4 linked regions of the Homo sapiens genome follow. The protein of the gene in region 3 interacts with the protein of the main gene of each other region in a pairwise test. Each region holds a gene or a part of one and is shown on either strand. Other genes may lie near its edges.

Region 1 (9,294 bases), on a different chromosome or scaffold from region 3:
GGCACACGGGCTTCCCACTGTTCCTCCACCATGCCCAGTGTGGTCCCACCTCAGGACCTTTGCACCTGTTGTTCTCTCTGCCTAGAACACTCCTCCCTAACAGAGCCACATGGATTACCCCTTCATTTCCTTCAAATCTCTACTCAAATGGTACCTAATTAGTATGGATTTCACAGAGAAGTCTACATAAAAAAGCAACCCCATTCCAACTCTTATATTCCCCATACACAGAGGGCCCTGGCATTAATATTTTTAGACCAACCCATTTCTTGGAAAATCAGACTTCTCAACCCTTCTTAGATATTTTAATCAAGAACTGTCAGGTGGTCATGAGTGCTATAGCTAAAAAGTTTATTATTCATTTGCTATTTATTTTGTCTTCCTCCTTTAGACTATAAGCTTCATGAGGGCAAGGACTTTGTTTTTTTCACGTAGTGCTTGGAATGAATGCATCTCCTCCATGCCTTTTTTTTGCTTTGTTTTTTTTTTTTTTTGAGACCAAGTCTCACTTTTGTTGCCCAGGCTGGAGTGCAATGGCATGATCTTGGCTCACTGCAACCTCTGCCTCCTGGGTTCAAGCAATTCTCCTATCTCAACCTCCTGAGTAGCTGGGACTACAGGTGCCCACCACCACGCCCAGCTAATTTATGTATTTTTAGTAGAGATGGAGTTTCACCATATTGGTCAGGCTGGTCTTGCCTGACCTCAGGTGATCCACCAGCCTTGGCCTCTCAAAGTGCTGGGATTACAAGCGTGAGCCACCAGGCCCAGCCTGATGCCCTAGTTTTAATGACCACTTATAACAAATGACTCCCAAGTTTTAATATTGTTAGCACCAACCTTTACTCTGATGTCCATGACAACTCTTCTTGGTTGTTTAAAGGCATCTGAAACTCAACAGGTACAAAGCTGAACTCATGATCTTCCTCTCCAAGTCTAGGCCTCTTTTCATAGTCTCTCCATTAATTGTCAACACTGCCATTCAATAAATATTTATTGAACACCAACTCTGTGCCAGGCACAGGAGACAGAGCTGTGACCAAAACAGACACTCTCATGGAGTGGACATTTTAGTGGATCCTCCATTCCTTTGGGCAAGCCAGACATCAAGTTAGCTTTAATACCCCTCTTCCTCATCGTGATCCTCCCCATGACTAATCCAGCACCAAGTCGGGTGGATTTTTACCTTCTAAATATGGCTTGACCCATTCCTTTCCTATCTCCACTACCAACACTCCACTCTAGCCCCTATTATCCGTCTCTCATCAGAATGAAGATAACAATCTCCTAACTTAACCAGAATCCACTCTACCCCTCCCAATGCATTCTCCATACTGCAATTCTGATTAATCCCTCCCATGGTCACCACCGCTACCTGGTTGTAAATGCTCAGTGGTTTTCCACTGCTCTTTTACTCTCCCAACTCCAGCCATCATGGCCTTTTCCCATCTTTGTACTTACCATGCCCCTCTTGCCACAGATTCTTTGCACACTCTGTTGTCTGTTCTTGGAAAACTTTCTCCTCCTCACCTACTTAACTTATACTCATTCTTCACATTTCAGCTGTAGTGTAACTTCTTCAAGGAAGCCTTTTCTGATATCAGTCAAACTTTCTGTTAATGAGCTCTCCTAGAGCCACAAATCTCCCCTTCTTAAGCTTCTCACAGTAGCACATTTACATTTACATGTGGGGTTATCTGGTTAATGTCTTCCTCCCCCTAGGCTGCAATCTCCCGGAGAGAAAGGACACATCTGTTGCATTCATCGTTAATCCCAGGGTGTAGAACAGTGCCTGACACATAGTAGAAGAGCAGTAAGCATTTGTCAAGTGGATGAATGAATGAATAGCTGGAAAGAGGATCTAGTAAAGTAATGCACGTAAAGCTCCTAGTATAGTAATCCATACATACTAAGTCTTAATTACCATTAATTATCTTACCCCCTCCACCCAGGGAATTCCCAGAACTTGGGAAGGGAAAGTGGCAGGAGTTAGCATCAATGTCTCACAGTGTAATCATGTCACTGCCATCTGTTTCCTTTCGTTCTATATTCAAAAGGCTATAAATGATTTAGACAAATCCTAGCATACTCTGACCCTCCTCCAAAACCAACAGGCAGATGTTGAGGGAGGAAGGTGAGTGGGCCTTAGGCGATCTTATTTTTCCTCTCCTCATAAGGTGGGGGAAGGCCTGGGAACTGAGTGTGTGGCACCTGAGGCTGTATCTTAAGAGTTTGCATGGTAATCCTAGAGAACCACAGATAGCATCCAAGCCAGATGCCAGTCAGAGAGACCCCCGTCCCGGACTCTCTAATTGATGTCCCAGAGCCTTGGGAGGAGGACATGGTTATCATGCTCAGGTTTAACATCCCGAGTGTCTTCTTCATGGCTGCAAGGTGCAAGCACACAGCTAGTATATGCAACTCCAGTGGGAATGAGACTGGATTCCAAATCAGTGGGAAGACAGAGAATAATGGAAACGTAGGAAAGAGGTAGGAAGAGAAAAATAGGGGCATGTCAAGGCGTCGCTGTAGTGCGCATGACAGCAAGGGACAAAAACAAAAACAGAGATGAGAGAACTCCAGACTTGACCCTCCAAGGGCCTGGACAGGCCATCAGGCCGGGCAGTCTCCATCCCCTGACCTCCTCAGCCTGCACTGATTGGGAGGGGCCTCCTCCCTCCCGCCACCGTGGGAAGAGAGAACATGATTCCCTGCAGATCTGAGCAAAGTGCCACAGCCTCCCAGGATGCTCAGCCCTGCCCTGAGAGCTGGGGTGGGTAGGAGGATGGCAGAGAGCGGTCAAGAGCAGTTATTGCCACAGGACACCGGGGGAAGAAGGCGCTGGAGAGAAGGATGGAAGCAGGCAGGACAAGTTCGGAAGGTCAGATGGGATAAAGGCGTCTTTGGTAGGTAGTTCCCGCTTGCCTTTGACCTCTGTTGAGTCTACAAACAGGTATTATGTGCCAACTCTATTTTGGTTAGGGAGACAGGTATGGGTGTGCCTGGGAGGCTCAGGCTACTGGGTGGAATTCAGAAATACCGCGGGGGACAGTCCTCAGCCCCAAACTCAGCCCACTCCTTCCTCGCAAGCTCCCTGGGCCCAAAGCTTGCCGGGCCTCAGTTTCTCCTCCGAGAAAGGGGAGGGCGAGGCTGGCAGTACCTGGCGGCGTCGGGTGGAAGGCAGGGGGCGCACTTGATGGCGTACTCCGTCCGCCAGCGCCTGTGCCGCGCCTGGAACACCTGGCTGAAGCCGCCGCTGGCCACTAGGCGCCAGTCGCCCTCGAAGTCGTCGCGGGTGAAGACGGGGAGGCTGCCCAGCCGCAGCTCGGTGGGGTCGGCAGCCATTGCCCCTCTCTTCCTGTCCCCGCGCCGCGCACTCCCCGCTGTGGCTGCTGCCTGGGTGGCCGAAGGAGCCGCCGCTTCCTGCTCCTCGGGTCCGGGAGAGGGGAATGGGGAGACGAGCCGGCCCTGCCTCCTTCCCCGCCCAAGAGGAGCCGCTCCTGCCCCGCAAAGGTGGGGAAATCCCAGACATGAGCCCTGAGGCCCCAGCAGGGATGGAGCGACCTGGGCCTGGGGAAGAGGGTATGTCCCTCCGAAGCCCTCGCATTTCCCCTGTCTCAGCCTTTGATTTTCCCCAGTTCCCCCTAGGGAGGGATGCTGGGAGAAGGTGTCCCGAAGCTGGAAGAAGTCCAGCCTGAGAAGTTGGATCCAGTTTATTTAGGCCCAGCGCTAAGTGAAATCGGTTTATGCATTCCTTCAGTGCATTCAAGGTTTTATGGTTTATGAAGGATTCAGGCCTGGACCCCTGCCCCTATCCAGCAAGTATGGGGCTCAAACAATTTTAATGGGGATTTTCTGGTCTGAATCTGTTGGTCTGACTGGTTTCATGTTTCCTTTGTTCTTGTTGGGGTTTTGTTTGTTTGTTTGTTAGCCAGCCTTGGTGTGCTATAGGTTACCAAGGAGGGGTCAGCAGGGACAGAGTTGCGGGGGAGGCTGGGCTCCTGTCTGCAGGGGACTCCCTTCCTGGGCTGCGCTCTATCCAACCTCAGAGGGATGGACCCCAGCCTCGGGGTGGCCACGGGGGAGGTGGCCTCCTTGGCGCAGTTACTAGGGGCAGTTTGTTGCCAGGGATGAGAGGAGGCTCTAGCTGGAGCCTGACCAGTGCTGAGCTTGGAGGTTCCCCTGGGTCCTGGGTCCATGGGATTGCCCTCTCACCTTGGAGACCCTCAGAGCAGGGAAAATGACAAGTGCTTGAACAGACAGGTCTCCCCAGGGGCACTGACCAAGTGGGCCATTGCCCAGAGACAGGCATACCTGGAGGAACTGTGGCCACGGAGTGCAGAGTCAGCCACTATTTGCCTACAGCTGAGTAAGTCCACAAGGAGCCCTCAGAGTGATCACTGTTAGGTTTGAGGAGCCTACCTACCAGACAAGGAAGTGCCTTGCCTTCAGCCCAAACCTGCAGAGCCCCTCGTCCATGCCACAAGCCCACCAGACTCCCAGGGAACAGTGTAGGCATGATAGGCAAACAGAGACTCCCTGTGGAAGCTGGAGAACTTGCTCCCTCTGTAACAACTTACCTGCAACTTCCAGGATGAATTCTGGCAAGCAGATTAAGGATCAAAGATTGGGCCTGGAGACAGTTGTCATAGAAACTAGTGATAGCCACTACTAATTGAACACTCACTTTGTTCCAGGATCAGTGACTATTTCAGTTACTGCATTGCTTTACATATATTATCCTGTTTATCTTGCAACAATGTTATGAGGTCAACATCTTCTATTCACAGATGAGGAAACTGGCTTCAAGACAATAAGTAATCAATGGACACATAGCTAGTAAGTGGTAGTTGATATTCAAACTCAAGTCTCTTAGTTTCTATGGAAATGGTTGGCCAGGGGAGGATCAGGGAGTAGCCTTTTATGAATACAAAAAAGGAAGAGAGAGAGTCATGCTCCCTGGAAGAGGGTGGAGATGATGGAAACTGCATCAGGAGCAGGACGTATCCCCCAAACATATGTCAGAGGGAGGCCCCCAGCTTGCTTTGGCTGGAGCAAGACAGGGCATAACAGAACCCATTGTCTCTGGAGTAGCCCTGCCTGCCCAAGTTTAAAGCCTCTGCCAGAGAAGTTTGGAAGGTGATAAAGGACATTGTCATCAGGGAGACCAGGAGGTCAAGAGGATGTTTCATACCTTCTACTGGGAGGGTGAACATGGAGACTGGGAAGGTGACCAGCCACCCAGCTCTGCGGAAGTTTGACTGAGGCCCGATCTTTGACATTCAGCGAGACCTATCTCAGCTCCTGGAGGAAATACCAAGGGTGAATGGCCTGAGTCATTTCAGCAGTTCCCCTTGATCCACTTATACCTGAAGTGGCTCTCCAGGGAGAGGAAGTAACCAGAAGCTGCCATTGTCTGCCTGCAGAGACTGTCACAGGAATACTGAAGAAAGCATCATTCCTAGAAGAGGGGACACCCAGGGCTCAAGGCATGTTGCCAGAATCCCGAACAAAATACCTCTGAATTTCTCACAGGGGTGGAGGTGGAGGAACTGCAGGGTCAGGGCGTATTACTGCTGACCCACCTGTTGAAACTCTCTGCTGTGGGTTCAAGCACCCCTGAGGCTTCTGAGGAGTCAGTCAAAATAGATACATTCATTGACCCAGAGGGACTGGATCATTTGACTGGGCTTGTCCTGCTCCTTACAGCTGTCTAACATGGGCTAGGGCAAAGGCCTAGTAGTCTTTGGATAAGCTCTGGGAGAAGTTGTAAGTGGAGGGACCCTTTCTGAGTATAAGGTCACAGAGGCAAAGAACTCCTGGATCTCTCATTAAAAGTGGGGTGAGGTATAGGGATTTGCAAAAGAGTAAAGTCAACTCAGAGGCTGCTGGTTTCTTTCCAGTGGTCTGAGTGCAGAAGTCCCTAGGTCCTGGCTGGTTGGGAAGTCAGCAGCCAGTGTGTGGAGGGGAGAGAGCTGGGGGGTTGGGAGGGAAACTCTACCTTTACCCATATCTACCTACAAATGGGAATGGATAATGAAGTGGTTATAGTCCAATTATGACCCCCACCCACCAGAAGGGGCAAGGAACAGGTTCTAGCTATAGAAGTTTTACCCCAAAATGCTCTGAGTCCTTCCAACTAACCTCTATCAGTGCATTTTGTTTGGGCAGATTGAAGATGGAAGTGTTCTGGATTTGGAGTTATTAAATGAATTTTGTGTGTATGTGTGATTGTCTTTGGGGAACCTAAGATTTTTAGCCTGCTCCTCCCAGACAAGTGAGCTGGTACAGGAGCTCTGCAATACTTTAGAAGATGCTGAAATCTGATGTGAGCCTTTCCCCAAACCGGAATGACAAGCTATTTGCATATAGGGAAGTTTCCCAGTCTGCCCCTGTTCTCCACCCTGCAAACATGTCACGGAGAACCCTGGACAGGTTCTGGCAGGCCCCAGCCTCTGGTAGCTTGTGTACTGAGGTTGGTCAGGATAAAGGAATGTATGCAGGAAAGTGGAACATCTGTTCAGGAAGCAGGACTCCCAGAGTGAAAGGGATTGAATGAGGCAATAGGAACAGGGTTTAAATGTGGGAGTGAGTCAGTCAGTCAGACCCGCATTTAAACCCTGGCTTCTTTCTATCACTTAGCATTTGTTTAACCTTGGTCACATTATCAAATCTTTCTGGGTTTCTCCATCTGTAAAATAGATGATAATCATAATAACCATTCCAAAACATTGCTATAAGAATTATAACCTTTAAAAATATACCTAGTATATTAGTATAATATTATACTAATATAACATAAAAATACAATATAATATCATATTAGTTTAATATACCTAGGATATTTTTAAAGGTTATAATTCTTACAGCAACCTTTTGGAATGGTTATTATGATTATCATCCATAAAATATATCTAAATACTAGGTATATTTTTAAAGGTTACATTCCTTAGGTATATACTAGGAATACTCCTAGGCAAAAAATATGAACCAGCTGATACTTCACACCTGAAAAATTAACTCAAAATGAATCATGGACTTAAATATTAAATGTAAACTTATAAAAATTTTAGGAAAAAAAAAGGAGAAAATATTCTGGACCTAGGATTAGATGAAAAGTTCTTAGGCCGAATCCCACAGGCACAATCCATAAAAGGGAAAATTGATAAACTGAACCTCATCAAAATGAAAAACTCTCACTCAGTGAAAGACCTGGTGAAGGTGAAGAGAAGAGTGCAGATGGGGAGAAAATGTTTGTAAAGCACATATTTGACAAAGTGCTGGTTCATAGAGTATATAAGGAGGTCTTCAAACTCAATGCTAAAAAAGCATCAAATTAGAAAATGGGAAAATACATTTCTCTGAAGAGAATATACAGATGACAAATAAGTTCTTGAAAAAATGTTTAATATCATGAGCCACTAAGCAATGCAAGTAAGATATCACTAACTACCTATCAGAATGGCTAAAAATAAAACTGAAAAGATAGTGGCAACGCCAAATGCTGATGAGGATGTAGAGTAATGGGATCACTCATACGCTGGTGGAAATGTAAAATGGTATGGCAATTCTAGAAAAGAATTTGGCCATTTCTTATAAGACTAAACATATGATTACCATACAACCCAGCAATTGCACTCTTGGGAATCTATCCCAGAGAAATGAAAACAGTGTTCACACAAAAATCTGTATATGAATGCTCATTGCAGCTTTATTTGCAATAGCTAAAATCTGGAAACCGCTCAGATGTCCTTCAACCAATGAATGGCTAAACACACCATAGTGCTGTATTATGGAATAGGACTCAGCAACTACTGATATACACAGCCACTTGGATGAGGCCCCAGAGAATTCTATTGAGTGAACAAAGCCAATCATAAAAGGTTACATACTGTATGACTCCATTTATATTGCATTCTTAAAATGACAAAATTATAGAGATGGAGAACAGATTAGTGGTTGTCAGAGGTGAGATTGGGGGAGAGGCAGGTGGGTGTAGCTGTAAAAGGTTAGTGCAAAGGAACCTTGTGATGAAACTATTCTGTATCTTAACTGTGGTGGTGGCCACATGAATCAATGCATGTGACAAAATTCCATCAAATTAAATGCACACACAGATGCACACACACACACAAATGAGTGCATGTAAAACTGACGGCACCTGTGTAAGGACTATGGATTGTATCACTGATTTCCTGGTTGTAATGTTGTGCTATAGTGACATAAGATGTTACCTTTGGGGGAAACTGGGTGAGGGTATCTCTGCATAAGTTCTTAAAATTGTGTGCTTATCTGTAATTATCTCCAAGCAGAACATTTAAAAAATACAAATAAAGCCCCCTTCTTCTCTTCTTCCTCCTCCTCCTTTTCCTCCTCCTCCTTTTCCTCCTCCTACTTCTCCTTCCCCCTTCTATTTCTCGTTCTTGTCCTTATTACTAGGTAATGTTATATTCTTGGAAGGAAAATATTCCCATAATAGGAGAAAGGCAGTAATCTAACATTTACCACAGAATGCCTTAAGGAACACAGCTGGCCCCCTGTGGACACGTAGAAACCCCAAGGAGAAAGAGAAAGGCCACTGTGTTAAATGTCTGAGGCTGGAGACGATGGAGAGAGGGAGCGAACTAGTTCCTTCTAAGACTCAATTTCTGGAGTTGGCAGAGTATAGATTTTCCTTCCTAATAAGGAAACCAGTCTCTCTTTTGAAGGGCTTTTTGATGAAAAACTACCTTGAGTGTCAAGAAGCCAAAAATGGAAGCCCTGAGTTTCATGAACCATGGTTCTCATTGTCAAAATCATGGCCACAGGTTCTTTATGGTCTTGGGTGATTGTGATTCTGGGCTGGGTCCATATAAAAATAACAAACAGATGTCTCAAGCATCCTGCCATCTCAAGCAGTTTAGAAGAAATGCTTGGCTGTGGCCAGGGCTTCAGAGAAACATCATTCCAACATGGGGCCTTAACAGCCTCAGAGCATGCCCAAGATGTCATGGTCAATACCTTCTCTGGCAGTGTCCAAGAGACTAGGAATGCTAAACTTAACCCTTTTTAATTTAACAAAGAGTCAGTCCAGGGAGATTGAGTCCCTATTACCAGGACTCTAAAGGGAAAATGCCCTCCTTATGTCAACCTTGGTGATCTGGCCATAAATCTATCCTTCTGCTCTCCTCTGGGCCCTTCCTGGATAGGGGGGAGTGAAGGAAAGCTAGGACTAGGGAAGGACTTAAACACTAAAAGGTGGTTTTCTTGGGAACTCTGAAAGCTTGCTGGCTCTGCAGGTAAAGAAAGGGACTT
Region 2 (4,547 bases), on a different chromosome or scaffold from region 3:
CTCCTGCCTCAGCTTCTCAATGCGCTGGGACTTCAGATGTAAGCCACTGTGCCTGGCCTTAATTTTAATTATTTTTTTTGGCGGGGGGGTCTTGCTGTGTCACCCAGGCTAGAGCGCAGTGGTGTGATCATAGCTCAGTGACACCTCAAACTCCTGGGCTCAAGGGATCCTCCCACCTCGGCCTCCCCAAGTAGCTGGGACGACAGGCACCCACCAGCACACCTGGCTAATTTTTGTATTTTTTATAGAGATAGGGTTTCACCACATTGCTCAGGCTGGTCTTGAACTCCTGAGCTCAAGCGATCCACCCATTTCAGCCTCCCAAAGTGCTGAGATTACAGGCGTTAGCCACCACACCCAGCCTAAAAAGTTATTTTTAAAATAATCAAAATCACTTAGTAAAATTGAGGCAAAACAAACTATAAGTTATACTTGTATTAAAATTTAAATTAAGATTTAAAACTAAAATTTTACTTAACTTTTTGAAATTGTTATTAAATATTGCTAAATGTTTTTATGAAAAGAAATCTTAGCAGAGTGTGGTGGCTCACACTTGTAATCCCAGCACTTTGGGAGGCCAAAGTGGGAGGATCGCTTGAGTCCATGAGTTTGAGACCAATCTGGGCAACATAGTGAGACCCTTTCTCTACAAAAAATATTTTAAAAATTAGCCACACATGGCAGTGCATGTCTGTAGTTCAGCTACTTGGGAGGCTGAGGCCAAAGGATCACTTAAGCCCAGGATTTCGAGGCTGCAGTGAGCCATGATTGTGCCACTACACTCCAGCCTGGGTGACAGAGCAAAACTCTTCTCAAAAAGAAACAGAGAGAAGAAAAGAAATCTTCACTATTCACAGTTAAATTCTCTGTGAAGGCTGAAGTAGTGTTTGCTCTGCAGTTAGCAAAAGCACAACCTCCATGCATTGCCCTAGAACCTGAACGGTGCTATCATGACAGTGGGTGTTTGGGTTTGTCTCACACTGCATCAGCACTGAGTGTCAAATCAGTGGTTTGACAAAATGGGAATGCACATGAATTCTTTAATCAATTTATTGGAAATTGATCACTTGTATGTTTGTGATACACTCTAAGGAACAGGCCACAGGCAGATTAGAAGAGAGTGGTAACAGACAAAGCACAATTTCCAGTAAGTGATATTGGAGCAATTTGGAAGGAAAAAAAAGTGCAACGTCTACCTCACACCTTCCACCATAAATTCTAGATGGACCAAATATTAAACATTAAAAATGAAATTCTAAGAGTCCTTTAGAGCACCTGCCCTGGAGTCCCAGCAGTATCAATCCCAGGTGTGGAAACCTCTTCCTTTGCGTGGCTCCCCTGCGTTGTTTGCAGGAGAGGTCTGGAGGAAAGAGAGTCACCCCAGAAATACATCGATGCCTATATAGTGTTGTCTCTCTATCTTGGGTTTTTTCCTGCAGAAACCACTCTGAGACAAGCATCCAAATGCAAATAGATTATTTGGGAAGTAATGCCAAGAAGCACCAGTAAGGTATTGAGAGACAATTCCCCATGGTTCTCTCCTATTTCTGCACACTTGCCAGTAGAGGCACTGGTTGCCCTTGTTCTAAATAATCTTTACAAGGGTGATTATTATAGTGAGTAACCTTAGAAGATAGAGGTAGTATCTCCCTCCAGAGCAAAAGGCAGATTTTATTGTCCCGTATACTAAAGATAACATCTCCCACCTGGGCAGGTTTGCTTGCAGCTTATTATAAAAGACGTGGGTCCCCTAAATTCAGCATGCAGTTTCTCCACCGTAGTGCAACCCAATGCATATGCAGGCATCACCGGGCCATCATCACATCACTCTGTAGGAACTGCGGTTCAGGGAAGTGGTGCAAGAAAATGCTTTTACTCTGTCTACTGCCGTTACTGTAAACAATAATCTGTTGTCTGTTTCTGAACCCAGAGTTCTGTGCCTTCTGCCATGATCCTTGAGAATATGATAGACTATGATAGACTAACTTGTTTGCTTCAAAGTCGGATAAGCCGGGCGCGGTGGCTCACTCCTGTAATCCCAGCACTTTGGGAGGCCGAGGTGGGCAGACCATGAGGTCAAGAGATTGAGACCATCCTGGCCAACATGGTGAAACCCTGTTTCTACTAAAAATACAAAATAGCTGGGTGTGGTGGTGCGCACCTGTAGTCCCAGTACTCGGGAGCCTGAGGCAGGAGAATCGTTTGAACCTGGGAGGCAGAGGTTGCAGTAAGCCAAGATCACGCCACTGCACTCCAGCCTGGCAACAGAATGAGACTCTGTCTCAAAAAAAAAAAAAGAAAGTCGGATAAAATCTCAGCCTTCACACTTATTGATATAAAATGGGAGAGGGGGTGAGACAGGGAAGGAAAGGAAGCCAAAGGAGGTAGGTGGGTTTATGAGTGGGTTCCTTCTGTAGGCAACTGAGGCTCAGTCTTCAGTTGGGAGCTGGCAGAAAACACAAGCCACGGTTGTCCCACCCAAGGGGTGAGGGAGCTGGGCATGTGTCTACCAACTCTCTGTCTTCCTTGGTTTCAGGCTGCTCCAGGGGATTAGCTCTCAGGCACTTTTGGTTACTTACCCACCTGGCCTCTGCAGCAGAGAAAACCTCAGCTCACCATTGCAACTACTCTGTGGGAACTTGAGTGAGAGGGGATGTGAACTGCTTGGACCCCACCAGACTGTGATGGGGGCCTGCCTGAATAGTGCCCATTCCTTGTGCCTGGCACAGTGCCAGCAGATGGTGACTGAATGCATGCCCCATGGCCTAAGGATAAGGATCTATTTGCCTGCCTGTATCCTCCACCAGGCCATGAACTCCTTATGAGTAGGGACCGTGTCAATTTTTCTTTGGTACCACAGTATGACAGTGTAGTCCTGGCAATCAGCTCACTGAAGGTCTGTTGCATGAATGAAAGATGAAAAAAAAAGCCTCTAAAATAAACAAAAAATCAGAGTCAGCCAGAACTAGACTGAACCATTTTTAAGTAGAAAAGGGCCATCTATCCAAAATCAATAGCAAGTGCACTTGACAGGGAGGGACCAGAGGCACCCCAAGTGAGAAACAATATACAAATGCTCTAGTCGTTACAGTTTTTCAATATTGTATTGAAGGTCTCAGCCAAGCTATTAAACAAGGAAAATAAATAAGAGCCATAAGTATTAAAAAGGAAAAGACAGGCCGGGTGTGGTGGCTCAGGCCTGTAATCCCAGCATTTTGGGAGGCCGAGGTGGCAGATCACTTGAGGTCAGGAGTTCGAGACCAGCCTGGCCAACATGGCAAAACCCCGTCTCTACTGAAAATACAAAAAAAAAATTAGCCTGGCATGGTGGTGGACGCCTGTAATCCCAGCTACTCGGGAGGCTGAGCCAAGAGAATCGCTTGAACCTGGGAGATCGCGCCACTGCACTCCAGTCTGGGCAACAGAGTGGCACTTTGTCTCAAAAAAAAAAAAAAGAAAGAAAGGAAAAGACAAATTTGTCATTGTCATTATTTTCAGTGGTAAAATGTCAATGTAGAAAATCCAAGAGAAGCAACAACAAGCACATCTTGTAAGAGAAAACAAAAAGGTGTCCAGTTATAAGATAAACCCCTGTAAATTAATGGCTTGCCCATGCAGCAGCAAGAACCAGTTAGGCCATCTCTCTGTATAATACATAACAAGAAAAACTGTAACATCTGAGACTAGATAAGCAGGAAAGTGAACCTTCCATGAGGGGCACAGCCCTGGTGCAGCCACAGTAAGAAAAAATGAGAAGGGGGGAGCTGAAAGCCACCTTCCGCTTGGCTGTGAGTTGTATTCTCCTGCCCACCCTTAGCCCACCAAATCTTCTCCGGGGCCCCTGAGTCAGGTGCACAGTCAGGGTCCTAATGTCCTTCCCTAAACTAGCCCTCTGCACTAGGGGATGGACGCAAGCTGGCTGTCCCAGAGTGTGGAGTGGCTGTGTTCTTTCCCTATAGCAAAGCCAAGGGCATTAGTACAGCTGTGGGCAGGGTTCCTAAGCCAGGCCTGAGGCTCCCATCGGGAGTGGGAGTGGGTGGTGAGAGAATGAGGGGACAGCCAGATAGTGAGAGGGTTCAGAGCTCATGGGGTAAAGGCAGCCTCTCTGGCCCCTCCTCAAGACCAAGTGGAAGGGAAGAGCTCTGCAAACTGGCAGAGAACTTGGTCTGGGGCCATGTAGTGGAGGGGCAACACCCCAAAGACCTGAGGCTCCTCTACAATTTGTCTGGCCCCCACCCCTCACCCTGCCAAATATAGGCACAGGCCTGGCACCCAGTTGATGGTGCTCAGGGTACAGAGGAGTAAATAAAAGCTGGAATAGCAAACTCCACGGGGCCAGCTTTGCCTCGGGCACAGTGCTCCAGGTCTCCTCCCACAGCCACAGCCAGCAGCCTCCTCTGCCCTTGGAGGGCGCACAGGACCTTGTTGGGCCTTCGGAGGAGAAGTAGGGTTGGGGGCAGGTGGTGACTCTGGCAGAGGCTCTGTTTCCTCTTCCAGCTCCAGGGCCCACCCCACTGTGACTGGCAGAGTCTGAAGGGCTGGGCTGG
Region 3 (8,678 bases):
GTAACTGAGTTCCCAATCGCATCAGTTGGTCTGGGCTATAAACCACAGCCCCATTAAGCTATAAATGACAGAGATTCCTGCCAAGGCAAGAGCTGGCAGAATGCTTATTCACCCAGCTCTGCCAACTAAGGCTCTATTGGTGTGGCCAATCAGGACATTTTGTCAGGTACACCAGCCACAAATTCCCATATTCAAGGATCTGAGACTTTCCTTTTATCCCAGTAATTACTAGAAAACATGTGCTCTCTACTAAGGAAGTTCTCACAAAGCCTATACGGAATTAGTTAATAGTTAAGTGCCACTCACTATACGGAATTAGGTAATTAGTGAATTAGGTGCATTCGCTATAGTTCTAGAAAAGACTCTGAAGTGCCACTAGAGGACCATGTCTCTTGTACGCTGTGACAGATGTTTGCTGAAAAAATGAGCAAGGTGAGCGAGCAGAGTCTGTAATACATTTGGATAATTTTTGAAATTGGGGGATTTAAAAACTATATCGAAGCTGATAATGAGATGTGAGTTCATTTGAAAGGAGAAGAAAAACGGGTGCAAATTCTTAAGCTTTCAAAAATGCACATTTTCAATTCCCAAATGAGACTGTAAAATCTTTCAAGATTGGGGTCTGGTTCTTCTATCCCAAAATAAAACTAATATGCATTAAAAATATGTTAAGCAGCAAAGGTGATTAACAGTGAGGATGAGAGATAAAACAGTCTTAACTATTCAGCTTAATTTAACAAGTATTCGAGTTCCTATAATATACTTAACAGGTGAAAAAAATTAAATGTATGCAAATACAAAATCAGGTAATGTTAGAGGCTCCACTTTTTAAAACTAAGTCACCAACTCCCTATAAAAAGAACATTTCTTAAATTTATAAAAAGCCTGAATGGAAAGAAAATGTAAAACACAAAGCAAATAACTAGTCTAGACTCTACTGCTGGACTGCACTAACTAATCAACCAAGATACAAAAGATAGGGCCCTGGCAGTCGTTACTCTGGGGAGCCTCAGGTATAAACTCTGCTGAGCTCTGACAAATCCTGTTGATCTGGTTAGGTCCCTGCCTCTAACTCTTTTCACTACCATCTCACAGAACTTTATTGCTCCATTGCTCTTCTGTTCTAAGTTGGTCATTAAGAGTAAATATGAAGGGACATGAGGCACTTCTGACTAAGACCAACTAGTTAAAGGTAGTAAAATCTAAAATAAAATCCATTTCTTCTAACCCTTAGGTACATCTCTCAACATACACAAAAAGCTATTTTGTATTGGGCGAGTTTGACCCAATCTCCTAGCATTTATCTTGAATACAACAGTTCTCAAACTTGAGTGAGCATAAGAATCACAAAGGGAGTCACTTTAAAATCCCCTTCCCCCATGTCTTTGGGCAAAAGAATCTACATTTTTAATAGACATCCCAGATGACTGATGAGTGGTGTACAACCACTTTTAAAAACAGCTGCTGCTCTATCACTACTTAACAAATAGCCTCTGCACTCAAGAGTGCTTTGTTTTATAACACAGAAACGTTCACACTGTAACAAACTGGATTTTGGGAAGTGAATTCTATTTTCCCATAAGTAGACTTTAAAATTTTAAAGATACATTATTCATTTTGAAGGCTGGGAGTGATTTCTTATACTTTCTTCTATAGGCCACATTCCATGCTTTTCCCTTCCTCATCTTCACCACAGTGGTTAAAGATTTAGAATTTAGAAATCCTTTTAAAAGAGCATTTTTCACCCCAATTTATCTTTTTTATTCGTCAGGAATGCGAGTATTTGAAAAGTTGACTTGTAAACCTTACTTCTGAAACCACACCTTGAAAATGCCAAATATCTCTTTAGGAAAGAAAATGTTTGTACCAAAAAGGTCCACATTTAAGGAAAATGCTGCTATTAAATAATGCTTAGATACAAGGTACTGAGAAACAGCGAGAATTTTATTATTTTTCAGAAAAAGAAGACACTTTTTTAAAGTACCTATGGAGGATCATCACCAAGTAAGAAATGGCACTTCTAGTAATGCACTTGGGCACAGTAAACACAGTCCCAGACTGAAGCCTGGTGAAGTGAATTCTAGGCTCAGTTTTGCCACAAAAGAGCCATGTGACTTTGGGAAACAACCTCTCTGGGTCTAAGTTTAATTTATAAAATAAGATAGTTAAATAAAAGTAACACTTTGATTCTAGCAGCTTAATTCACTGGGAAGTATTTACCTCAAAAAGCATTTGAGGTATGTAACACCTCTAACGTGTTTGATCAAATGACATAATTAAAACTGAACTGGAAACTTGATATTGTGAATAACTTACTTAGGCTGTTCTCGTAGCTATCAATTACATATCATTGTACTTTGCTTCTTCAAAAAAGCTGAATACTTTGAACGTCTAATGTTCACATATTGAGTTTTCTTAAAGTCAGGTACGTATGTACCATAGTCGTTTTGTAAAAGGAAAGAATGTATCTTTTCAGTCCTTTTTCCCAACCCATTGTCATTGCAGACTGAGAAAAAAACAGCTTGAAGTCTTAACCACCAAAAGCAACAGTGCTGCAGTAATTACACCACAAAAATAACATTTCATTCTTAATGAATACTCAGTCTCCTGAGATTACAGTTATCTTCTGGTAACCAACTTTATTCTGTCTGCTCTCATTCGTTAGTGCAAACATTTTCAATTTTAACCCATATTCAGTTCACAAATCATACTTATTTCCAACGGAATATACTGAGTCCAAAAAAAAAATTCCCCAATAGTCCAACAGGAAGCAACACATGCATTTGGCAATTCCAAGGAGGCTGGGGACTCACAGATACCTCGTTCAAAATAAATAAACTTTCCAAGGATTTATTTACCGACGGGAAAGGCAGGTTTGAAAACAACCAGTTAACTTCACTCCCAAGTTGGCATCTTAGAGAATCTTTGTGCGTTTGCAAAACACCCAGGACCTCTGAGCCTCCCAGCCGAGAATTGGCCAGGGGAGCACACGCCCATCGGCCCTGCCGGGAGAGGAAACAATGGGAGAGGCGCGAGGGAGCAAGCCGGCGCCCCGGGCGCCCCAACTCTGCGGCCCCGGCCCGCCCCGACCCCACGCGCCGCGCCCCCTCCCCGGGCGCCCAGGCCCCCCAGGCCCCCGCCCCCGAGCCCCGGGACGCGGCCCACCTGCGGCGGCGCGGGGAGACGGCTGCACTTACCAAACAGGGTCAGGGCCATTGTAAAGGCGCTCGCCGCCGCCCGCGAGTCCAGGCGCTCCTCCCAGGCGGGCTAGGGATCACCTCATCAGCCCGCCGCACCCACACCTCGGAGAGAGTGGGGTGCCCGATGGGGCGTGCTGGGGGCGCCGGCGCCCGGGGAGGCTGCAGGCCGGGACGCGGGGGACCGCTGCAAGAAAAAGTTATTCACGCGTTATTGTCGGGCGCACCGGGCCCAGGGAGCCCCGCTAGCTCTCCGCGAGCCGGCACTTGTCGCTGCCATCAGGCGCGGAGCGTGCGCGCGGGAGGAGGTACCTGCGAGGCAGGAGGCTTGGCCGCGGCGCAGTGGCTGGCGGAGAGGCGGCGCCGCACTGGCGGCGGCGGCGGCGGCGACGGGGAGAGCAGCAGCAGCCTCGCACAGCCCCCGGCGGGGCGCGCTCACTCCGCATCCCGCGGCCTCGCAGACGCCATCTTGCGATAGCGTCTCCCACGAGCTCGGCCGCGCCGCTGCCTCCCGCCTCTCCCTCGGGCTTCCCGGTCGAGTGCGTTCCCATGGCAACGGGCGCGCGCGGGGGTAAGAGGGTGCGCCCTCATTCCCGCGGCTGCGAGGAGCCACCAGCGCCCCCCTGGAGGCGGCCGCCCGGAGCGGGATGGAGCGGGGCCGGTGTGCGTTTTAGCTGAAAGCCCAGGTTTTTTCTTGAATGGAATTTGAGGAGGCGCAGAGAGGAGAAAAACGCTGTTACTCGAAAGAGGAAGAGTCACAGGAGGATGCTGAGTGAACGCAGCGCCCAGGCAGGGTCATCTGGGGACCTGGTGCGTGTGAGAACATATTTCTTCTCCTGGCGCCCTCCAGGCTCACTGTGGCTGGAGCCGGTGACCTGAAGCTGCAGGGCTCTGGTAGGAACAGAGGCACTGAAAGCTGCATTCCTCTCCGTTTGGACTTAGGAGCTGCTAGTAGTTCTGATGAAATTGACACACATTAGGAAAAGGAGTCGCTTAAAAAGCATCTGAGATTACCTAAGATAATTTGTTAAAAGACCAATGCTTACACCTGATTTTCTTCCCTTTACATTATACCTCTTTGATATTGTCTCAAGGAAAAAAAAATCAGCATGTGTCACTGACTGGCACTTATTTGCCACAAAAGATTGTTCCCCTGAGCTTCTTGTATTTATCTGATAATCACTGGCAACGTCCTCCTTTCTGTGATGTTGTCTCCTCACCTCTGTCTCTGCCATGAGGAGCCATACAACGCCTTGAGATTGTCAGCCAAAAGATGTTCTTGAAAAGCTGGGTTATATGTTTTTCGTCGTTGTCGTTTAATGTATTCAAAAAGTCATTCTTCTCTAGTTGCTATATGTGTTCCCTGTTTAAGAAATTCCTTCTTTTTTCTTGTTTCTCTGCTTAGGGATTTGATACTATTTTGGTATCTGATCATGTAGATCTTCTCTTTGGTTCTCCTTTCTTTCTACAGGCGTCTTTCCTCTTAGTTCCTCAGGTTCCCTAGTGTCTTCTCTCCCATTTTCAAATAATTCTTTAAGAATATTATAGAAATATCTTGTATTTAATGTATCTTAGAGATCGAATCCTGATAAAGTGGGAGATTACTACAGTACTTCCAATGGAACCACAGTTAATTCACCATCATTATTTCAAAGCAGACTTAAGCATCAGAAGAAAAGCAGGTTGGAAGGAGGAGCCAAGCCTTTTGTTTCAAGTCAGTTAACTCAGGAAGAAAGAAATATTAAAATGATTCAACATGAATGGGCAAGTGTTTAAGATGCTATATGTTTGGAATTTTGTGATGTAAAATGGCTCTCTTTAGCCACTAATCAAAATACATCTTTAAAATCCCCAGAATTTAAAATCTTTCATGAAAATGGACTCTTGATTTTGAACAACCTTTCTGCTCATAAAAAATTACAAACACACAGCTCATGAAAATAAATGAGAAACTCAAGAAAGCTTTGTGGGATAGATTTTATAACCATATAAAGATTGCTGCTAATCTGCTCTGCAGCCAAATAAATCAGAAACCGAAGACTCCATTTACTGTTTCAACTAGTGGTCTTCAACATTTTTGGACCAAATTTCCTTTTGAGGCTCTAATGAAAATACTGTCCCTCCTCTTAGAAAAGTGCTTGCATACATACACACATTCACCGGAAATTTTTCACATAATTTCAAGGGGATTATGGGCTATTCAGGGACCTTAGGTGAGCCCCTGGAAGTGTTTTTTGTAATCTCAGAAAGTTTTTGCCTTTATAATTTAAAGGAAAATATTTTCCTTCAGAATAGAACCATTGAATTTTGAATAGGAAAAGACCAAAACTCCCATGATTTATAGGTAAAAAAATTGAGTTCCCCGTAAAAAGATTTTCCCAAATGTGTTCACCTATTTAGTAGCAGAACCAATGGGAAAATCTTAGATTTCTGGTGTTCTCACCGACCACCTTCCCTACCCACATCCCGCATCAATTTAGAGGTTGCATGGTTTGAATTTCAAAAGAAAAATCTGTTTAGTATTAGAAGCAAAATAACGAGAGTATTTTGTCCTTAGCCATTCTGCATAGAGTTTGGGAAGTTGCATTTTGTCTCAAAGAGTTTTTATTAACATGCCCTTCTACTCAGAACTATGTGTCCCATCATGCTAAAAGAGAAACAATGCCTTTCTCTCCTCTTTGTTAAGCTCTGTTAGAGCATCAAGGTTTTGGTGCTGCAGCTCAGCTTGCTAGTAGCTCTCTCCATCCCTTGAGGGGTTGTCCTGGGAGTGAGACAGAGAGAAAGGAGCTGCCCTGCACTCAGATTTACCCTCCCATCATACAGCCGGCCTTTGGTTACTAGACCAGCTTTCCACTCACTAGTTTGGCCAAATACAACTGAATCCTAGTGAAATACCCTGCTTAAACTCAAGTGAAGATCCTTTTCCTCTCCCCTTTCTACTCGCACACCCACGTACACACACACACACACAGCTGTTTTTAAGGTACAATTTGGAACAAAACAGTGTGAATGTTGCTATGTTTCCCTTTAAAGCATCCTGCTTTCCACGAGCCATTCCTTTCAACTGACTTCCAAATGGTTTGATGCTCTAACAAAATGCTCTCTATACTTGATCAAAGTGCCTGTCTTGGAAATAGTATTGGCTTTTAAAATAGCGTATTTTTTTCAATGAGCTATTCCTATTCTATTGCATGTGCTTCTTTTCTCACTTAGCTGAAAATAAAGCCACAGCCTTTCAGCTACAGAGTCAATGCAAGGAAGGGCGTTAACTGCTTGGAGGTGATTATTACGGGTGGTGACTTAGATTGTTTATAAAAGAAGGGCAAAGAATGAATTGACTTCTCAAAATATTTATGTTTTCATTCAATGATTTCATTTTGTGCTTAACATGCAAGTGCTTAGAAGAGCCAGATTTGTTTATTCGTTACTAACTAGCTGTCAGATTTTTAGACAAATGTTTTACTGTTTCTAGTTCTTATCTTCCTCCTTTGTAAAATGAAAGGATGGTACTAAGGTATCTCTAATGTCCCTTTTAGGTTTATCTGTCATTGTGTGATATTTTAAAATCTTTAAATTAACTGGTTTATGGATAAAACAGAGGACATTTTTATTTGAATCTTCAATATATTTAAAGTGCTGTTATATCTAAAGTTCATAAATACCTAATGTAATAAAGAAGTCATATTTTGTCAAACCAGTGGTACTGCTATTTCTTCTGCAATGTGTTGTACTAATAATGTTATATTAATCATGTAGAAAGCAACCTTTTTCTGGTTTAACAGGATTAAAATTAAAAGTGTGCACTGAACAACCCATTTCAAATTTACTAAAACAATTTCTCATTTTTATTTAAGTTTTGTTGACTAAACAGAACCTAGACAACCCTTTAAAATGGTTTTCCTACATTTTAAACTAATGACTTATCACAAGTGTTTTGAATTTCTTTTTGTTACCCATTTAGCTTCATTCCCATTGGTAAACATTGATTTGTTCCTCAGTTTTCAATGAAGCAGAAATTAATGAGGCGGTTTCTGCCTCACAATAACAAGTTAAAATTATAGTACTTTGTCATGTCAACACAGCTTTAAACACTAGGAATACCAGTGCTATTAGCACAGTTCCCAAAATAGTGCAGAAGTTTGCTAGTGAAGAGAAAAATGTTACACAGTATACTTCTGCTAAAGTTAAAATTAAGAAAGTTAAAATTATTTAAATATTCACAATATGTGACATTCTCTCTATCCCATATTTATGTTACTAGTTACAGTGTTTGTTTCCACTGTGTGAATTTGTTTAAAGTGGATTTGTTTTTGTTTTGAGACAGGGTCTCACTCTGTCACCCAGGCTGGAATGCAGTGGCACAATCTCAGCTCCCTGCAGCCTTGAGTTCGTGGGCTCTAGCAATCCTCCTACCCCAGCCTCTGGAGTAGCTGGAACCACAGGTGCATGCCACCACACTCGGCTAATTTTTGTATTTTTAGTAGAGACAGGGTTTGCCATGTTGCCCAGGCTGGTCTGGAACTCCTGAGCTCAAGCAATCCACTCCTCTCAGCCTCCCCAAAGTGCTGTGATTGCAGGCATGAGCCACTGTATCCAGCTATTTGGTCTGTTTGGTTTTTTGTTTTTTTTTTTTTAGACGGAGTTTCACTGTGTCACCCAGGCTGGAGTGCAGTAATCTCAGAGCTGACTGCAATCTCTGCCTCCCAGGTTCAAGTGATTCTCCTGCCTCAGCCTCCTGAGTAGCTGGGATTACAGGCATGAGCCACCACACCTGGTTAACTTTTTGTATTTTTTAGTAGAAATTGGTTTCACCATGTTGACCAGGCTGGTCTTGAACTCCTGACCTCAAGTGATCCACCTGCCTTGGCCTCCCAAAGTGCTGGGATTACAGGCATGAGCCACCGCGCCTAGACTATTTGGTTTGTTTTTAACAACGTTTTCCTTAAACACTTAATTCCGATTATTTTTTACCCCCCTTCTTGTTTTTTATCTCAGACTTTCTGAATTAATAACTTACCTGATATTTGTGTGGCATTCCATGATTTACAAATAGCACTTTCACAGGACAAAGACATATGCACACAAGTAACTAAGGCAGCACTTGCCTCAAACATAAGGATTTAGACCATAACACTATTTATGACAAAAATAATATTTATGTCATAAACTGTAAAATTGCCCGTTAAGCTTAAATAACTCAATGTTTAGGAGAATTATTTGTGTTCTGTTCACCACCAGAGGGTGCCTAAATTATAATAGTAATATTGGGCCTTAGAAATGAAGTAAAACTCAATTTGAGAAATACATAAGAAACCTTAAGAATTTAAAACTTTCTCAGTTCCCCTACACAGTGCTTGCTATAGTAGCAGAAGATAGTCACCAAAAATATGCTAAAATGAGAGGTGGCTATCATCTGGCTAGGCGCAGATTAGGAATTGGATTATTACTGAGGAAACACTGCTCAGCTCTTATTATATCACT
Region 4 (8,729 bases), about 44 Mb from region 3:
GGCAGTATCCGAAGGCAGGATGTTTGTTGGGGGTTGAGGGGGGCGTCTCTGTAGGGTCTCTGCTCTCTTTCCCATCCCCTTTAGGCTCCTCCAATTCAGAAATTCTAATCAAATAGCTAGTCTCACTAGCTAGTTCCAAATAAGGTGGACCAGGATTGTTTCCCCAGCCAGAGGTGGGAGAGTAGAGCGGCTGCCCAGCCCGCTCAGTCTGGTTACTATGGCGACAGCCGACAGCCGCGGAGTGACCCTAGTGATCCTCCCTCCCTCCTCCCAAACCAAGAGAGATGACGGCACCGCGCTGACTGCGCCAAATTCCAGCCAATGGGCGGCTGCTCCCGCCTTCCCTTCCGCCAGCTCTCCCCCTCCCTCCGGGAACTCAATTCACAAATCTGGACTGGGGATTTCCGGCTCCAGGCAGGTTACAAGGGCGCTGGGCTGAGGCCAGGGGAATCGAGTCCTGTCGTCCCGGGAGGGCAAGTGGGGACCGACATTTTTGGGTTCTGGAGCCAGACTTCTATAACTCGCCGCCAGAATAGATGACACCCTATTCCCAAATTATCCGGAAGACCTAGTTGAGGCCGAGTCTGCAACTCTTCCTGCCCTTACAAGCCCCGACCCCGCCCGAGCGCGCCATTCAGCACCACGGACAGCGAACCCGGGCCTCGTCTTGGCAGGTCCCCCCGGGTTCTTTCCGGATCTTCTCGGCCACGGCCAGACTAGGGTCGGAGCCGCGGGCACTCTGTTGAAGCCAGGCCTCTTTGGGCCAATGAAACAGTGAACAGGGCGCTTAGCCACGTGGCTAAGAAGGCAATGGGGACCGAGCAGGGATCTCAGGCTAAATAGCGCATTTTCCTTCCTGTTTCAATCCCAGAGAATGGCTTCCTTCTCCCCAACTGCCCTTGTTTGCCCCTTCTTGGGGATAAAGGGCAAGGGTCTGAGTCTCAAGCAGGGATGGACCCCCCAAGACTCCTGAGTGGGCGTGCGACCTGGGCATCGTCGAAGCAGCCCCATGGTGGTTGGGGGATGAGGAGAGAAGTATGGCAGACAGGCCCCACTTGGGAGTGGTGAACACAGACTTAGGCCCGACTGTACTCTTGACCGATATATGGTGGGGAGAGATGGGGAGGAAGGGAAAAATAGCAATAAGGACTAGCTAGTTCTGCCTCAATGGGTCTCATCACAGAAAGGGCACAACTCCGCTGTCCCCATGATTCGGTCTCTAAGTGGCCCGGGCATTAATGAGGAGCTAGGTCAGACAAGATGGAGGCGGAAGTGGGGGGATGGATTCAGCTTTATCACCAGGCCTCACCCTCAGCTGCCTCGCTTTACTCTTTACTCTCTGTAAAATGGAAGCCGATGGCGGGGGTGGGGATGGGGAGGAGGAGAAGTTCTCAGGTACTTGATCTCCCCTACTAGAGCCCCATCTCTTGCCTTTCTGCTCTGTCTGTGACAGTTCCATTACCACTCCCACTCCCTCCCTCCCGGGGCCCAAAGAAAGACCGGCGCAAAACCATCTGCAGGCGCTTCCAGCGCTTTATAGTTCTTTCCGGGACAGACGGACAGACAGACAGTGCGGCCCGCTCTGTCGGCCCGCATCATTGGCACCTTGGACACGGCCCCAGGCCCAACTCAGTCCCTGGTACCCTACCGGGAGGATTCCGGTCCCGCCCCAGCTCAGCACCTCGGACAGTTCCCGGCCCAGCCTACCCCCCTCCCCCCTCCCTCCGCAAACAACCAAATAAATTAAAAGGGGCAGTGGGGAGGAGCAACAAAAAAGCTAAGGATAAGGAAGCGGGATGTCCCTCCTCCAAGGTAAGAAGTTTTCTTTTCCTCCCACCTGTCCACTGAGGCGCCGCGGCCGGGGTGGTCTCCCAGGTTGATTTTGCCTCCAAACCTCAGCCTCCTGAAAGAAGCCGGCAGCCCCTTCCCCCACACCCCCCAGCTCCCAGCATGCAACACGTTGGAAAAGGTGGGGAGAGGCGGTGGGGGTGGGGCGAGGGACCATCCTGGTGGCTGTCTGGATACCTGGGACTGCAGTTTCTCCTGGCACCTCAGTCGATCCAAATTAAAAACTAATATTCCCTTTGATCAGGGGAGAGGGGTGTGGTGACTCAGTCAGGAATAAAAAAATGCAAGCTGACACAAGTGGAGGAAGAAGGCAGACAGGAGGGAAGATGGTGACACATGACAGGAGCAACAAGAAGGGCAGATGGGGACACAGGTGCAGGAGGAGAAACAGGGGTCTACGGGGTACAGTCAGGCAAGGGGTAAGATGGAGATGCAGACACACAAACCCAAGGAACGGAAAATGGAAAGGCAGGGAGAGGGAGGAAGAAAGAGAGGAACAGGAGAGAGAGGGAGAGAGAGAGAGAGGAATGCAGACAGGAGGAAAAATGAAGACACAAAAAGGAGGCAAGGAAATGGATAAAACCGAGGGGGAATGGGCTGAAGGGAAGGGGGAGACCCCGGCAGAAATGGAGAAATGGGGGCGCAGACAGACGGGAAGAGTGAGGTTGGAGTGCCTTTCCCGCGCTCATCTTCCGTCCCCACTCCACGCCCAGCAAATCCAAACACCGCGGCCTCTGGTGTCCCGGTCTCCACTTTCCCCTGAGGGGCATGGGCGTCTCCTCCTCCGCCCAGCCGGGGCGCTGAGCGGCGGTAACAGCGGCGGTGGCTTTGTGGTCCCGGGGGGTCCGAGTGTGTGTCAGGGGCTGGGGCGGGGGATGGGCGCGGCCCCTGGGTATCCCTAGCGGTCCAGGTTCATAGTCCAGTGCTTGGTTCCGGCCGCGCAGCTGTCCCTGGCGGCCGAGGAGGCGGCGGGCGCGCCCCCGCTCGGTGGGCCCCCGCCGCTGGCGGCGGCCTCGCCCTCGTTCTTGAGGTCTTGAAAGACCTGCGTGAAGAAGTGGGGGTCGGCGTTGAGCCGCAGCATCTGCGGGCTGAGCCGCTGGATGAGGCGCAGGCAGCGCTGCCAGAAGCGCTCCTTGTCGGGCTCCACGAGGAAGGGCTTGAGTGGGTAGGAGATCTCGTTGCCCATGTAGGAGTAGGCGAGGTAGAGGCAGGTGAGGAAGGCGGCCTGCAGCTCGGCGGCCGACGCCAGCTCGTCCCCACGCAGCGACTCGCGGCACAGCAGGTACACGAACACCAGGTTTGCAGGCGTAATGAAGGCCTGGTCTTGCCAGCCCTGCAGCAGCAGCGAGCGGTCCACACCGCGGAACCAGCCCACCAGCTCGCCCGGGCTCAGCTCCTTGAGGCGATAGCAGCGTCGGCACACGAAGTCGCCCAGACAGCGCAGCAGCTCGCCGGTGGACGCCTGCACGATGACCCGCCGCGGCGAGCCGCCAGGCACCGGCGGCGCCACCTGCGGGGCTGGGGGAGGCGGCGGCGGAGGCTTTCCCCCGCCCGAGCCCGGCGGCTGAGCGGCCGCGCTGCCCCCCGACGGTGGCTCGCAGGTGGCGGCAGCCGCGGGCACGGTGGGCACTGGCACCGCCAGGGGCTTGGCGGTGCCGCCGCCGTCGGGGGGATCCCGGCCCTTGCGGAGAAGGTTCTCGCGGTTGCGTTGCTGGACCAGGGGGTCGGGGCCCGTGGATGCCGGCTTGGGTGTCACCTTCTTGCTGCCTTTCTTCTTCTTGGCGGACGCGGCCACCAGGCGCTTCCAGGTGAGCGCCGAGATGAGCACGGACGGCCGCTTGAGTCGGCTCTCGCCTTTGCCGCCCTTGCCCACTGGCGGCGCCCCGTAGCCCCCCAGCGCCTCGTCCCCCGCGGGCGGCGCCTTCTTCTTCTCCTCGGGCAGCCCGCCGGGCCTCCGGCCCTTGGCCGAGGAGGCAGGCGAAAGAGACAGCACTGTGCCCATCCTGCAGAGCGGGGCCGGCGCCCAGGCCCCAGCGGGAGCCGCGGGCGGCGCCGCTGCTACTGCAGCCCCGGGGGACCCGGCGGTGGGGGGCCTAGCCCCGGCCCGGGCGCGCGGACTGGCGGGGGAAGGTGGCTGCTAGGCGGCTCCGCTGCTCTAATCCTGAGCTGCGCCAGCTGCAGCGTCAGCCCCACCCCTTGGGCCCCTTTTTTCGTCGCGCCGTGCCCCGCCTCACGCGGCCAATCCGCTCCCGAGTTGCACTCCTGATGGGCAGCTCCAATGACCAATAGACTCTCGCACTTCAATTTCAAGTCCCGCCCCAATCCCCACCCTCCGCCCTGAGTCTTTTCCCTTCCCCCGAGCGGAGGAAGGGGAAGGCGGTGGTCGTCGTTCGAGTGGCCTCCTCAGGGTCAGAGTTGAGAAGGGGTGGTGGCTGCTCCTGCCTCCTCCGGATCCTAGGGCCTGGACCAGCTTGTTCTGATGCACTGGGTCGCGGTAGCAGATAAACCATGGGAACAGCTCTCCTTCCCTCTGCCTTTGAATTTGTGTGGGGGGCCAGTGTGAGCAGTGAGTGCCCTCACCGGATGCCCAGGTCCCAGATGGGTCGCGTTGCACTGGCTCCTCCAATGTGACTGTCAGGTCTGTTTCCTCTTCGCGACCCCACCTCGCCCCCCACCCCCCAGGTCGCTAGGGGGGCTGCAGCAGGCACATTTCTGCCCTGCCTGTTTGGGAGTCCTGGCAGAGCCTTCTTGCAGGTCACAACCCGCCTTCTTGGGGGTTCCAGCTTGAGGGGGAGAGGGGGAGCAGCAAGGTCTCAAATATGCCCCTGAGGCTTCTGCTTGCCGTCCTGATTCTCTGCAACTGAGCCTGTGGGGCAGACCCTTGGCTCTGGTCCCTGGGCAGCTCCTCTCGGTTGGTTGTCCCCACTAACACACACAGATCTCATACTTGGGTGGATGATGGATAAGGTTGGTCCCTGGGGAAACGCTAGAAATTGGATCACTTGGTCTACCCAGTCTTGGATAGTGAACGGAGCCTCCTGTGTGGACGGAAGCCCAAGAGGGTTGGACCAACCTCCAGCCCAGCCCTGGGTCCAGGTTGAGGTGGGTTTCATCATTAAATGCTTCCTGCAGGTAAGGTTCCAGCTGTCCCCACTCCCAGGAGCAAGCTGTTAGGCTGGGTCCTGTCCACTTCTCTCTGGGTCTGTCTGTTACCTCCTGAGTACCCATCAGCCCTTTGCCCTGGATTTTGGACTCCCCAGGCCTTACCTGCAGGTCTTGAGCACAGCTAGTTCTGGACCTATTCTATCTGCCTTGTTAGATCATGTCCACCCTTCTTGGAGCCTGCTCTCTGTGGCTCCCCCAGCACAAGAGCCTTCAGGCTTCTTAAGTAAGTGGACCTTGTAGGTGCATATGGGTTCCATGTGGAGCCAAACCCCTGCCTATGTATTTCAGTAAATTCTAAGGATTGCCCTTGGAGTCACCTCCATGCTCCTCACAGACCGCAAACATAGCTCCAAGGATCCACTGCTGTCAGGGTTGGTTTGTGCATATATGTGTGTGTGTGTGTCACTGCAGATAGGCTGTTCTAGAATCCACTTGGGCTGCAGTTCCAGCTACCAGAGGTACAGAATTTCCCAGCCATTCCACAGCCCCTGGTCACTCACACCCTCCTGGAGGCCTGTGGTCTGCCTGTCTCCATTCCCCTCCTCTTTACCACTGTGCACATGCAGCCTTGTACCTTCTCCCTAACTCAGCACCCAATATGCACTTTTTCAACAGGGTATCTCTGCTCCCTAGGATCTGATCTTTATTTTCTTGCAGCCCAAGCTGACCTTCCCAAACTCATTCTCCTCATAGTTCTTGAAAGTGTTCCCTCTTTTCAGCTCCTGTAATTGGCCCCACTTCCTCCTACAAGGTGTTCTGAGTCACTCTTTATCTGCCAACCAAGGAATAGTCAGTTCACCGGTAGTTAAGGACAAGCCCTGTAGAGACTGAGTTGCACTGGCGGAAACACTGGGCATGTGGATCTAAATGGCACATGAGTCCTTCCAGCGCTGCTCCCAGGAGTCCCTCACTGGCATAAGGCCTATTGTTAAGGTCATTTAGGACCACGTCTTCTAAGCAGCACCCACAGAGTGTCACCACTGTGGTACCCTATTCCCGGCCCAGCTCTGACCTCCTATTGTCCTCTTGGTCAGAACCAAGAATTTCCTCCTCTGCTTCAGGGACCCCAAAGCAGGTGCCTCAGAGGGTCCTACTCCCCTTCCTCACTTTCCACCTTGCTCTGCCTCCAACCCTGTTTCTGGCTCACATGCTCCCCACCCTCCTGCTCTGGTTATCTCTCCAGAATCTCTGAGCTCCTTCCACTGGGCCAGAACCCTCTCTCAGAATGTCAAGCTCTTGAACTCCCACCTCCTCCAAGAAGCTTTTTTGATAGATTGGAAGGGACCTAATACTCTTTCTGACTTCAGCCTTTCCAGCCTTTTCCCATCAGCAACAGTGGCTACATAACAACTTGGTTAAGGGCTGGGCTCTGGGTCTAAGATGTGCAAGATGGATATGGATGGAATTTTAAAGACAAGCAGACAAGCTAATCAAAGAGATCCAGAAAGAGTAACAACATTGCTGTTGTATATAAGCCGGTGGCATTGAGAGCTGAGAGGGAGGGTTATTATGTTTCTGCAGGGGGAGCCCAAGGGGAATAAGCCTAGTGAAACCAGAAAGACTTCATGGAGGAGGTGGGCTTCATAGAAGGTTGGTGGCTTTCCCACATTTGCAAGTGTACTCTTCTGGTTAGGTTATGTTTGGGTTCATATTCTGAGATTCATCTATCTTCATTATAATAGTATCTCTGTGTTGCTTCTCATCTCTCCATCTCCCTTATGTTCCTCTGGGGCAGTGCTGGTTGTGTCAGACTTCCTTAGATGGGAAAGCCCCTGAGGCCAGTCTCCTTGTCTGTCTTCATTGCTCTGTAGGTTACCTAGAACAGTGCCTATTCAGATTACTGGTTATTCCTGAAGGTTCTTTAAGGCAAATACTCTAGGCCCAGACCAAGAACTGGAGGGCCTAGACTGAGGTTTTAGCCTGGATAGGATCTGGCCTTATTGATGAGTGCATCCCATCAGATTCACCAGAGATGCTCCTCTCACTCACCCAACCTGGGCAGGTGGGCCCCATCTTTTAAGAGAACATCTCCGGACAATGCTGCTCACACTTTGCCTCCCTTTTGCTCTTCTTATCTCCCTTCTGAGAAGCCATAGTCTGGGAGGCAGGACACGGGAGTCCTAGTCTATGGCTGCCAGTTGTATGACCTTGGGGAAGTAATTTCAGCTCTCTGGGACTCGGTTTCATCATATTAAAATGCAAGGGTTCTACGGATTTGACTCTTATTATCAGATAAAAATGAATATTAAAAGAACAAGATAACATTTTAGGAATTGGACTAGAGGAGGATTCCTAAAGCCTCTTTCAACTCCACAGTTCTGATTCTAAACAAAATCTGTCCTGTGAATCTGTTTCACTCTCCAGCTCCAGCCCTGTCTGCTTCTCCCTAATCTGTTTCTGTCTGATGGGCTCAGTCTTTGTGTGCACAGCATCCATGTGAGGCCTGCACTTCTGCGGTTCACCCCAGGAGATGAAGGGGAGGGGAGCTTAGGCTCTCAGCAATGTAAATCTCCCTAGGTCCCTCCAAGCTTTAGAGGGGCCCCTGAAAGGTGAGAAGGCAAAGAAGAGGAGGGCAAGATGGCTGAGGCCCAGGATATCCCCAGTAAACATCAAAGGCCCCAGAAACCAAGGTCATTGCACCTCCCTGTAGGGGCCCCTACAAGGAGGCTAATGATGACACAGGTTCTTAAAACAGCCAGGATGGAGACCCAGCCTGGGCATCTGAGTGCCTGGATCCTGCTGCCCCCCCCCCCACCCTGGCACCCCCAACTCCCTTGCCCATCAGTCTCAGCTCCTGAGGTGTGCAGAGGGGGTGGGTATGCACGAGCCCAGACTTCTCTCCCTCTCCTGAGGACCTTACCCCAGGGGAGAAGTGGGTGGCTAAAACAAAGGAGGGGAGCAGAACCCCTCTACAGATAACAGTGGAGGGGGGAGGGGGTAAGCAGAGAGAAGAGAGGAATTGACAGAGGAGGTGCTGCTAGCTGTCAGGAGGGAGACCCAAATTCTCATGTCTTCCCATTTCGCAGGCTGTTTGCTAGAAGGACTTAATTAAGGAGCCCAAATATAGTTTCTTTTGAACAGTGAATAGGGCTGGGAGCACAGATGAGGAATGTGATGCTCTGGGGTGGGGAGAGAAGGGACCAATGCTGAGATGCTGGAGGGCCCAGGGTGAAGGGGACAGAGAAGACAGGGGTGAGCTGGTGACTCCTTTTCCCTGCCTTAAGCTCTGCTGCTTTCCTTGATGGAAGGGGGGCCATTTCTTCCTTTCCCATCCTCTGTCCTGATCTCCCTCCAACTCCCTGGCTCCTGCCTTCACCTCCTTTACTGTCCCCTGAGAACAGCTCTCTCTGTCCAGTCCTCCCAGCACTCACCAGAAGCTTTAAGTCTTGGTTCACCTTCTGCCTCCACCAAGCCCCCTTTTTGCCTCCTCCCTTTCGTCCCCCACTCCTTCTCCTCCCAGGCCCCGCTGGCGCCCAGCATAGCACTACAGATGTAGGAGCAGATCAAGAAGGGTGGGGGTGGTAGCTGTTGCTTTTCTGGGATATTCTTAGCCTGTCTGGGGGCTGGAGCTGGAATCAGCGTTTCCATCTCAACCAGGCAGGTGGCTGCCAGAAACTGCCACTGTGACTGGGTCTTCATCTGGTTCCATATCCCTTATCCTGTCCCTTCCTCCTCTATATTGATTTCATCGATGAACACAGACCCTCTGAGAGTCC

Evidence for each region.
Region 1: the proteins of CHN1 (region 3) and ANKK1 interact in binary tests that used the Homo sapiens proteins (3 or more experiments, as listed by UniProt).
Region 2: the proteins of CHN1 (region 3) and HEMK1 interact in binary tests that used the Homo sapiens proteins (3 or more experiments, as listed by UniProt).
Region 4: the proteins of CHN1 (region 3) and CDK5R2 interact in a two-hybrid assay, tested with the Homo sapiens proteins (one study listed by IntAct).

Annotation. Positions count from the first base shown.
Region 1 is NC_000011.10:113,381,936-113,391,229, reverse strand, and holds the start of ANKK1 (ankyrin repeat and protein kinase domain-containing protein 1), read right to left. Parts: upstream 3,452-9,294; 5' UTR 3,346-3,451; coding exon 3,161-3,345; intron 3,155-3,160; exon of another isoform or gene 841-3,154; intron 1-840.
Region 2 is NC_000003.12:50,592,656-50,597,202, reverse strand, and holds the end of HEMK1 (MTRF1L release factor glutamine methyltransferase), read right to left. Parts: 3' UTR 1,037-4,547; downstream 1-1,036. UniProt on the Homo sapiens protein: N5-glutamine methyltransferase responsible for the methylation of the glutamine residue in the universally conserved GGQ motif of the mitochondrial translation release factors MTRF1, MTRF1L, MRPL58/ICT1 and MTRFR.
Region 3 is NC_000002.12:175,001,697-175,010,374, forward strand, and holds the start of CHN1 (N-chimaerin), read right to left. Parts: upstream 3,686-8,678; 5' UTR 3,217-3,685; coding exon 3,198-3,216; intron 1-3,197. UniProt on the Homo sapiens protein: GTPase-activating protein for p21-rac and a phorbol ester receptor. Involved in the assembly of neuronal locomotor circuits as a direct effector of EPHA4 in axon guidance.
Region 4 is NC_000002.12:218,954,942-218,963,670, reverse strand, and holds CDK5R2 (cyclin-dependent kinase 5 activator 2), read right to left. Parts: upstream 4,006-8,729; 5' UTR 3,851-4,005; coding exon 2,747-3,850; 3' UTR 1,516-2,746; downstream 1-1,515. UniProt on the Homo sapiens protein: Activator of CDK5/TPKII.